Regions from separate parts of the Homo sapiens genome. Here region 2 is linked to region 1. The links come from fine-mapping of genetic effects on gene expression. A gene starts in region 1. The other region holds a variant in brackets. All regions are shown on one strand. Distances are from middle to middle.

Evidence for each region. PIP is the estimated chance that this variant, and not a neighbour inherited with it, causes the effect.
Region 2: its variant is the best candidate, but not a certain one, in a credible set for the expression of ZNF212 in whole blood (TOPMed, PIP 0.55).

Annotation. Positions count from the first base shown.
Region 1 is chr7:149,236,995-149,242,373 of GRCh38, reverse strand. ZNF212 (zinc finger protein 212) reads right to left here and starts at 2,723. Exons shown (of 5, transcript NM_012256.4): 1 at 2,572-2,723. The coding sequence starts at 2,595. RefSeq lists an enhancer at 2,662-2,956.
Region 2 is chr7:149,563,861-149,569,239 of GRCh38, reverse strand. It overlaps the pseudogene ZNF767P. Among named protein-coding and RNA genes, the nearest start is that of TRC-GCA22-1, 9.8 kb to the right of the region's middle. The variant A/G (reference allele first, on the strand shown) is at 2,644.

The DNA of each region.
Region 1 (5,379 bases):
AAGGTAGTCTTTTTTTTTTTTGGTTGCTTTTAAGAATTCCCTCTGCCTTAGGCCGGGTGCGGTGGCTCATGCAGTGGTAATCCCAGCACTTTGGGAGGCCGAGGCAGGTGGATCACCTGAGGTCAGGAGTTCAGAGACCAGCCCAGCCAACACGGTGAAACCCCATCTCTACTAAAAATACAAAATTAGCCAGGCATGGTGACGCATGCCTGTAATCCCAGCTACTCCGGAGGCTGAGGCAGGAGAATCGCTTAGAACCTGGGAGGCAGAGGTTTCAGGCAGCCAAGATTGCTCCACTGCACTCCAGCCAGAGCAAGAGAGCGAGACTCTCTCAAAAAAAAAAAAAAAAAAAGAAAAGAAAAGAAAAAGAAGAAAAGAAAGAAAAGAAACGAAACTATGGCCAGGCACGGTGGCTCACGCCTGTAATCTCAGTGCCAAGGTTTAACAACTTACTTTGCAATCATCTGAAGGTCAGACCTTACTTTCAGTTCACCCTTACACAGAATGTTACCCTTTGAACTCTCTGCTTCATGGGATTGGGTTAGGGAGCTTCTTAGACTTTCCATCTTAGGCTCTGAGATGTGTGTTCCATTTTGCAGGTCCCTTGAATCATAAACACCAAAGATGAATGTTTGGCCAATGCCCTCAAAGTTGGCTTCAGAACTCTATCACTTTCGAGTTTCCTCTTTCGCTTAAGTTTTGGGGCTCCAAGTATTCTTTACTAAAATACATTTCAAATGCATTTATGTGCAGGGTTTTCCAGCATTTTCAGTTGTTTCATCAGGGCACCTACTTGAGCTTACTGTTAAATGACAGACACCTGAAATGTCTGAGAAGAGAAACAGGCTCAAGAACAATTTGAATAAGTTCTACAACGACAGATTCATGTTATTTAAGGCATAGTTTGGGATTGTGGTGGACTTTTTTTTTTTTTTTTTTTTTGAGACAGAGTCTTGCTCTGTCACCCAGGCTGGAGTGCAATAGCACGATCTCAGCTCACTGCAACCTCCACCTCCCAGGTTCAAGCGATTATTCTGCCTCAGCCTCCCGAGTAGCTGGGTCTACAGGCACCCGCCACCACGCCCGGCTAATTTTTGTATTTTTAGTAGAGACCGGGTTTCACCACATTGGCCAGACTAGTCTTGAACTCCTGACCTCGTGATCCGCCCTCCTCGGCCTCCTAAAGTGCTGGGATTACAGGCATGAGCCACTGCGCCTGGCCTGTGGTGGACCTTTAAGGCTTCTTCCTAACAAGGTCTACTGACGACATGTAGGTAATTGTGGAGTGACCTGGCAGGAAGAACTGTGGCAGAATCCTCTCGCCGGACTCTAACACTAACTAGATCTTGTGGAAAAGCCAAGTCTTTGACTGGCTCAGCCTAGCTTATAGGAGTCAGATGAGGTTAATATTGTAAACATTTGTGTCTTGTCTTCCCAATTCAACTGTTAACTTCCTTGAAAGCAAATACTGTGTTCTCTAAGTCTCCCAATCTCTCCGTTCTTAGTTCTTAACGCACTTTCTACAAGAATCAAATATAGCGCACCCTGCTCATGGTCAAATTTTCCCCACAGAATTTCCTTAGCCCTCCATTCTCACAAAGATCTAACATGATTCTCGAAGTGTTTCTAGACCAAGGAACACTTCATTAAAAGTCAATTCAATTCCAGCTGCCCCTTCCGTTGCAAACCCTCTGGTGTTGTTAAATTAACCACTACTTTGAAACAGTATGGGAACAGTATGAGAATGTCGGAGCTGGAAGGAAACTTAAAGCCTTGGAGATCATCTAGCAACTACTCCAACACTCTCGATTTACAGTTAAGAAAACGAAAGAGACCCAGAGAAGCGAACACAGTTGCCTAAAATCACCCAAATGGACAGCTGAAAGCTTCGTGACTCCACAAATAGGATTTTCCTCACACCAAACTCCGTATCTTGACATTCCCAGAATGGGGATGGTCGGTGGGCTGGGAGGGGGGTGTTGGGGGGGGGGTGAAGGAGAGAGTTTGGGCAGCTCTACAAACAAAATGCAGCAACTGCACTGTAGATAACATCCGTCCCCAAGGAGAAGCAGCCCAGGCTGACTTCAACCTGTGGCTGCAACCCCCAGACAGAAATCTGCAGCACTGGAAAAACCGACAACACATCGGACCGAAGAGGAGGTGGTCGCAGAGAGGCAAGTCCTGGGGTCTCCCGGGCAGCGGGAGAGCTCACTCGTAGCGACGGAGACCGTTTCCAATCTGGAAACACTCCAACCTGGGAACGGGCTCTTTTGGCACGAAAGAGAAAATGTGTGGGCAGGGTCACAAATCCACCAACCTAAAGCAAGCGTCAGAGAAGTTTCTGGGCAAGGGCGCACGGCGCCGAGGCTCCGACCCCGCTGCAGAAGGAAGCGGAGGGAAAAAAGGGCAGAGCACTGGGGTCGCGAAGAGGAGGGTCCGCGTTCACCCGCGCCAACGGCAGCCCCGGGAAACCAAGACCCCGGCGGCGTCCAAACCGCGAAGCCCCGCCCCCGGCAGGGGACTCCGCCATCCCCAACGCGCCCTCGAGCCAGCGCGCCGGTGCCTCTTTACCCGAGCAGGCGCCGACTCCGCCATGGCTCCAGTCGCCCCTCAACACCCAGACCCCGCCTCGGAGCCCCCGTGCTGCGTTCCTGTCCGCTCGGCGCCCCAGAGCCTGTTGGAAGCCGCCGCCGCCGCCGCCGTGTTGATGCCAGGTGCATTCTGGGAGCAGCGACCTCCCCGGCACAAGACCGGCTCCAGCCGCTCTTCCTCACTGTGCAGGCTTCCCATTGTGCCCCCGTGCGGCGGGAGGGAGAACGCTGCTTGGCACTCCCGGCCAGAGTGCGGGCACCAGGAGGGCTCAGTCACTCAAAAGTCAAGACCAGGTTCCGCGTTTCAGGCAAAGCCACGGGATCCTGCTGTCTTCCGTATGCCCAGCACTCTGCTAAATGCTTTGAGGGATTCAAAAATGTGTACAACTCAGACTTTTTGCTGAGGAAAGAACATGTAATGTTGTTGGGGAAAAGAAATATGGTTCCAAAAGGCAAGTGATTTTATTCCAAAAGTTCACCTGTTATTTGGCTTTTTAGAAACTGGGAACAGTTTCCATATCAACAGTGTGGAGCGTGGGGTCAGGCCCAGGCCAGCCCTCTGTAGCCTGTTAATTATGGTAATCATGTGCCTTGGAAAGTCCAAGACAACCCTGATTTCAAATATTTCCAGTCCTCATGCTACATGTAAGACGATGTGTCTGGAATTTTTGTTGGAAAGCACGGCCACATGACCATTTAATCGCCATGTACTTAATCCCCAATACCAGCAACACTACGGCAACCATAGCTGCCTAATTTATACCATTGTCTCTCTGGAGACAAGCAATGAACTTCCACTTCACAGGATAGGCGTGAAGTGTTTCCTCTGAGAACGAAACTTTTTTTTTTTGAGATGGAGTTTCGCTCTTGTTGCCCAGGCTGGAGTGCAATGGCGCAATCTCGGCTCACTGCAACCTCCACCTCCCGGGCTCAAGCGATTCTTCTGCCTCAGCCTCCCTAGTAGCTGGGATTACAGGCATGTGCCACCACGCCTGGCTAATTTTGTATTTTTAGTAGAGACGGGGTTTCCCCATGTTGGTCAGGCTGGTCTCAAACTCCCGACCTCAGGTGATCCGCCCACCTCAGCCTCCCAAAGCGCCGGGATTACAGGTGTGAGCCACCCCACCCGGCGGAGAACGAAACTTTTAAGATCATGACTGGCTCCTTCCTCACATGCAGGGCTCAGTTCAGATTCTACATCCTCAGAGAGATATCCCCAGTCCCCCCTTTCTACAGCCCCACACCATCCTCCATCTCAATACTCAATCTCGTTACCCTGCTGGAAATTTTTCATACCATTTATCACCATCTGAAGTAATCTCTCTTTTTCACTCATTTACATATTAATTATCTGTATCTCTTCCACTGAAATGTCTGTCTACTGTATCCTCCATTTGTTGTACACAGAAGTGTTCATATTTGTAAATGATTGAATGGTGAATCAGAGTGTAAGGATATGAAATGTCATCTCAAACAGAGGCATTATTTCCAGGGCAACTAGATCAACGGGCACGTCACTGAATCATTAATAAATCTAGAGAAAGAATGGGCCAGGCTGAAGAAACCGGTCAGTCAGGGAGATCCTGTCCAGAGGGTCTGACCTAATCTCTCAGACCAACAAACTCTTGGTGTCAGATACAGAAAAAAAAAAAAATGTGTCATGGGTGAGGTGGCTCATGCCTGTAATCCTAGCACTTTGGGAGGGCAAGGCAGGAGGATCACTGGAGTTTGAGACCAACCTGAGCAAATAGGCAGACCCTGTCTCTACAAAATTAAAATTAAAATTAAAATGAGCCAGGAGTAGTGGTGCACACCTGTAGTCTCAGCTACTCAAGAGGTTGAGGTGGAAGAATCATTTGAACCCAGTAGTTCAAGGCTGCAGTGAATCACGATCGCACCACTGCACTCCAGCGTAGGCAACAGACCAAGATCTTGTCTTTAAAAATAAAATAAAAATGTTATCCTCCACAGGCACAATATCAGGACATAGGATGCTGAGGTCATTAAACAGTTCGGTCGTAGAACTCATTCCCTCTATTCTATTTCTATACTCACAAGGCAACCTTCTGACGTTGCATGTTGCCAGGTAGCTTCTGGGAGGCAACATGCAGGTGAAGCTGATGCACATGTATACCTCAGTCTCTTGAAAATGAGCATGTTTCAGCATCCCAGACTCTGAGCCTGGAAGTCTGGAAAAAGGTTCAGATCAAATTTCCAGCCTGCAAAGGAGGCAGCACCAGGCACCAGGGTTGCAATCACGTGGGCTGGTGGAGATGGTGTGGCGCCTGCAGTCCCCCGGGCTGATGAAGACAGTGTGGCACAGTGATTTGCTAAGTGGGGCTGGGGAGTGAGACCGTCTGGGTCCCTAGCCCAGCACTGCCAGTATATTAGGTTTCTCTAGACAGACTAATAGGATATATATATAATGTTATATAAAGGGGAGTTTATTAAGTATTAACTCACATGCTCACAAGGCTCCACAATAGGCTATCTGGAAGCTGAGGAGCAAGGAGAGCCAGTCTGCGTCCCAAAACTGAAGAACCTAGAGTCTGATGTTCGTTGATGTTCGAGGGTGGGAAGGGTCCAGCATGGGAGAAAGAAGTAGGCTGGGAGGCTAGGCCAGTCTAGTCTTTTCACATTTTTCTGCCTACTTTATATTCTAGCTGTGCTGGCAGCTGATTAGATTGTGCCCACCAGATTGAGGGTGGGTCTGCCTTTCCCAGCCTACTGACTCAAATGTTAATCTCCTTTGGCAACACCCTCACAGACACACCCAGGATCAATACTT
Region 2 (5,379 bases), 330 kb before region 1:
GTGTAGAAAGGGGGCTCTTTGCAGATGGAATAATGGCCAGAGCACATTTATGTTTTATGTAGCTTGTCTTTTCTACTGTGTCTTGTCTCTATTGGCTGGAGCTAGACTTTATAATTTAAACTAAATTTGATTAGCTTCCAATTTAAAACTTTTTAAAATAGGTAAAAGTAATGGAGAAGAAAGGAAAAGAGGAAGTTGCTTATGAAAAGACTTAGAAAAGTAATAACATTCTTTAATGAGGAAGGGACACAGGATGCGAGCTAGAATGTGCTTGTAAGCATGTTTAGCACAAATATCTTGGTTAAAGTACAAAACATAGAATGTACTTATTCTTTTATATGTAACAGCTACATAAGATAAGGTTTAATAAAGAGTTATCGGCACAAAGCAAAGAGGCTTGAAAGAAGTTAGTTTTTTAAAAGAAACTATTACTTTTAACACTTATGATTTATTTTTTAATAAAAAGAGAAACTTTGAAAACAAAACTTTTTACTTTCTACAAATGTCAAAATAGAAAATGCGGAGGGGGTATCTGGAATCGAAGTGGTGGCCTCTTGGTTTGTAGTCTAACACCCCACCCCTGAGCTATGCCCCCTCCTGCTATTGTGGGGTTCAATTAATGTCTTTGACTTGTACAGTCACACCCAGATGACCTATGCGTTGCCACTTCGCAATGGAAGCTCCTAGGAGCTGCCAGGCCTACCTCAGTGAAAACTCATTGACCTTGTGCATAACAAGAGGCAGTGTCCCCTTCTCAAATACCCTGGATCTTGTGTCTTCGCTGCCTTGAGTCCTTGGTTGCGGGCAGCAGCCTGGAAAAGCACTGCCAGTGGCTGCTAGAATGGCCTTGAGAGTCAACCTCCAGTACCTGTTATGGTGGGCATGTACAAGAGAAACTGTGTGACCGAGGTGTCTATCCTAACACACTTAATGACAGAGTTAGGTCTGGCTCTCCTAGCCCAGTATTCCATTCAGGGCAGATTCAGCACAACTGCAGTCTAGGACAAAAGATGATTCTTTCAACTTTTACTTCTTCAGTTAATACAAATGAAGAATGATAGAGAAGGAGCAACTCCAAGAAATAGTGAGAAGTGTGTAGCTGAGTAGATTTCCCAAAAGCATTAATAGGGCCAGTGTTACCATAGTTTCATGACCAAAAACTGTTGCTACAGAACAACTCCACTTGGCTTGCATTGTTTTTCTTAAGTGACAGGGTATTTTTCTGTCATCCAGGCTGGAGTGCAGTGAAACAATCATAGCTTACTGCAGCCTCTAACTCCCGGGCTGAAGCAATACTCCCACCTCAACCTCCTAAGTAGCTGGGACCACAGGTGGGTGCCCCCATACCCAGCTAATCTTTTTTATTTTTTTGTAGAGATGAAGTCTCACTATGTTGCCTAGGCTGGTCTGAAACTCCTGGCCTCAAGTGACCCTTCTTCCTTGGCCTCCCAAAGTGCTGGAGTGACAGGCATGAGCCACTGCTTCCAGCATCCCATGTGACCTTTTCTGATGACAGACAGAGCCCCATCCCACCTAGAAAGAATACTTGGAGTAACACTTGGGTTATACCTTTTCACCTCCTCAGCTGTGCCAAGGCCCTACTTCTGCTCTTGTCACAGGAGCTGGCAAACTCTTCTTCTGTAAACGGCCTTTCCCTGCTACTGGAATTTTCTCCTTTACCCACAGGACTTTGCCTTGTAGTCCTGGCAGCCTTCTCAGAAGGCAGTCAACAGCCAGCCACTTCTCTCTGCTGCAGGCCCAAGAGCCTGGGGAAACACTGACTTCCACCATGATTTCTATGATAATGTTAAAATCCTCTTGCTTTTCCTTTTTGGCAGTAGGGTGGACTGCCAGGGAAGATGCAAAGAATTGATGAGCCTGCAGGAGCACAGAACGCTCTGCTGGCAGGGCTGGGCAGCAGCCTGAGTCCAGGAAGGCTGGGACTTGTTTGGATTCTGGAGGCCAGGTGTCAGTAGTACAGTGATGAACGGGCATTTCTAGGAAGAAGTCTTAGGCCCCACACATGGTGAGGAATCAGGAAGGAGACTGCCTTGCACAAAGACAGGATACAAGAAGGGCTGAGCTCTTCCAGAAGGAGTGAAGAGAAGACAGGAAAAAGAAAACCAGTCCCGAGAATCCCTAGCCACGGGCTGAGTGACTGGGGTTTAATGGGCCCTGAATTCACAGTCTTTATTGGGTCTGAAAAACTACAGGCAACTTATTTCATGTTGCAGTTGGATGTGTAGTGCTATAGGCTCCTGGCCAAATGAAAATCCTCCCCAGACTGCATCAGGAACTATGCTTCAAAGAATGCCTATCGATAGAGTTTGGACAAGTACAATAAGCCTGGGAGAAACAGTGCAGCGTGGATACCAATGGTGTGGATTCTGAAGTCAGACAGCCTGGCTTCAAGGCCTACCCCACTAGAAGACCTTGGGCAGATTACTGCCCTTCCCTTTCTTCAACTTTGTTACTGTGAAATGTGGGTAATAAGAGTGTCTACTTGATGGATTGTTGTGTAGATTGAATGAGTTAATCTGTGTAAAGCACTGAAGACAGGACTGGCACGTAGTAACTTCTGTATACTGTTTGCTGAACAGTTAAAAAGTTCGCAGGGAAATCAGCTGACATTCATGAGAGCCA[A/G]TAAACACAAGTAAGAAAATAAAACCTCATACAGCAGGAGAGGGTATCTATTGCACATAACTGATGAAGGGTTTATACCCAAAATATGTAAAGAATTGCACAAGACAATTAAAAATACACAACTCAGTAGAAAAATGACGAAGAGACTCGAGCAGTTACTTCATACAACTGGACATCCAAGCGACCAATAAGCCTATTAAAAGATGCTCAAACCTCATGAGTCTAGAAAGGTGCAAGTTAAACCACAGTGAACTATTGCTAGAATTGTTGCTAGGTTGGTTAAAATGAAAGAGACTGATGTTACTCAGTGATGGTATGTGGAACCATAGTAACTCTCATCCCCTGCTAGTGGTAGTGTCATTTGCTGTATCCACTTTAGAAAACCATCTGACATTATTGGCTAAAAGTAAAAATAGAAACACCCTCTTCCTCAACAGTTATATTCCTTGATACAGACATCAGAGAATGTATATGTACATGCAAGAATGTTCATGGCAGCATTTCTTTTAATAGTCCCAAACTGGAAACAAATGTCCATGAACAGTAGGATAGGTAAATAAGTCATGGTCTAGTCATACAATGGAATCCCAAACAGAGTTTTTAAAAGGACAGAGTACCACTACAGTGGAAAAACACAGATAAATCCTATAGACATAAGATTGAGTGAAAGAAAACAGTTTCAAAGGAGTAACTATGTATGATTCCAGTATATAAAATCAAGAACAGGCAAGACTAGTCCATGGTGATACAATAGTGTTACCTTTTCGGGAGAGAGGGTAATTGGGAAGGGGACCCAGGGGGCCCTCTGAGGTGCTAGAAATTTTCTGTATCTTGATTTGGGAGGTGGGTACATAGGTATGTATGTGTACAAATTAATTGAGCTGTACGTTGAAGATTTCTGTACCTTACTGTGAGTTGTATTTCAATTAAAAGTAAATAAAAAGGAAAACATTGATACTTTTCATTTCTGGAATGTCTTAGTTGATTTATTTTAAAAATATATTTGGTGAATTTTGATAGCCTTTTGCTCCTCAATTCAGTTTCCATTTCTCCTTTAAGAACACTTTTGTCTTGCTTTCAGTTTTCAATTGAAAGCTTTCACCATCCCACCATTAAATAAGATTTCTTTTTATGTTTTAGGTAGACACATCATGAAGATGTGTTGGATTTGATTGGATGTTTTTCTTCATCTATTTTAATGACATGATTTTTTTCCTTTAATCTGTTGTCTTAGCTTGGATTTCCTTAGAAGCAGACCCTGAAGCTAGAATTTAAGAGCAAGTAGTTTATTTGGGAGGTAAGTTCAGGAAACACCAGTAAGGAGTGGGAAGTCAGAGAAAGGAAAGAAGCCAATAAAAGGTGGTGTTAACCTAAATAACAGACGGAAGCTCTCTGAAAGGAAATTATATTTATTTAGGGAATGAGCATTGGCAATGGGAATACAGGTGTCACAGTAAACTATGTGTGTTTTTGAGGAGGTCATGGTAAGGGAAAGTTTTTAAAGGCAAAATGAGAAGGATTATATAAATTGTTTTGGAGAAATAATTCTTGGCTCTAGCAATCAGTAACAAGGGTGGCAACAGTCCAAGGCTAGTCAGGCTTTTGCTGGGCAGATGTCCTTGCAGAAGTATTTTTTGTGAGTGTGTAAGGTTACAATGGCCTTTGTGCAAGGTTGTGGTTTTTACAGTCTTTTGTGATAGTTCTTGTTATCAGGAATTCATATATAAAAGCTCTACCTTTGTGGCCTTCCCTGGCTCCATTTGCCGGGTTTTAACACAAGTGACTCCATTTTCATTCTGACAACTTTCACAGTGGGATATTGGACAAGTTACCATTATAGGCAACTGGAGCTTAATACCGTTGGGGACTTTGTAAGATGTATAACATGCTTGAGGGTTATCCTCTCCAAAAGAACAAGGCAACTTGTGTATTTCTCCATCTACTGCTATCAGTCATCGGTAGAGGGTTGCTTTCGAAGGTTGGGTCCTAATTATTTGGTACTTTCAGCCTGTTACATGTTTGGGCAGCCTGAGAATGCCCTCAGACATAAAGTTACAGGTGCTGACAGTTGAAATTGGGGCCTGCATGCACAGAACTGATAAGTTCTGAAGGAATATCAGTGGGGCAGCAACAGCATTTGCTATATCCTATAGTGTGGTGAATTACAGTAATAGATTTTTCTAATGTTAAGTCAAGCTTACATTCTGAAATGATCTTAATTTGGTTATGTGTTATTTTTTATGTAATGCTGGCTTTGATTTATTAATAGTTTTGCTTATGGTTTTTAAAGTCTATTCTATATTAATATGTGAGATTGGCCTGTTTTCTTACATTGTCTTTGTTATTTTTTATAATAAGTTTAACCTCATAAAATGAGGTGGGAAAGGGACTGCTGCTTTTAGTTTTCTATTCTCCAGAAGTGTCTGTGTAAGACTTACATCGTTTCATTCTGAAGTGATTGGTATAACAAGTGTTTGGTATAACAAGTGTTTAAACTATCTGTGCCTGGAAGTTTTTTGTTACTTTTTTAATGGCAGAATGTTTCATTGAAAATACAAGTTCCTTAATTGTTCCATGATTAGTCATGATTTTTACTTCTTCTTGTGTCAATTTTGATAAAATTAAGCCAGATGTCGAGGACAAATACCACTAGTATAAGCATAAAGTAAGATTTATTTGGGAAAAGTTACAAACAATGCATCAGAATGTCTGCAACTTCCCAAACTCTCTTTATTT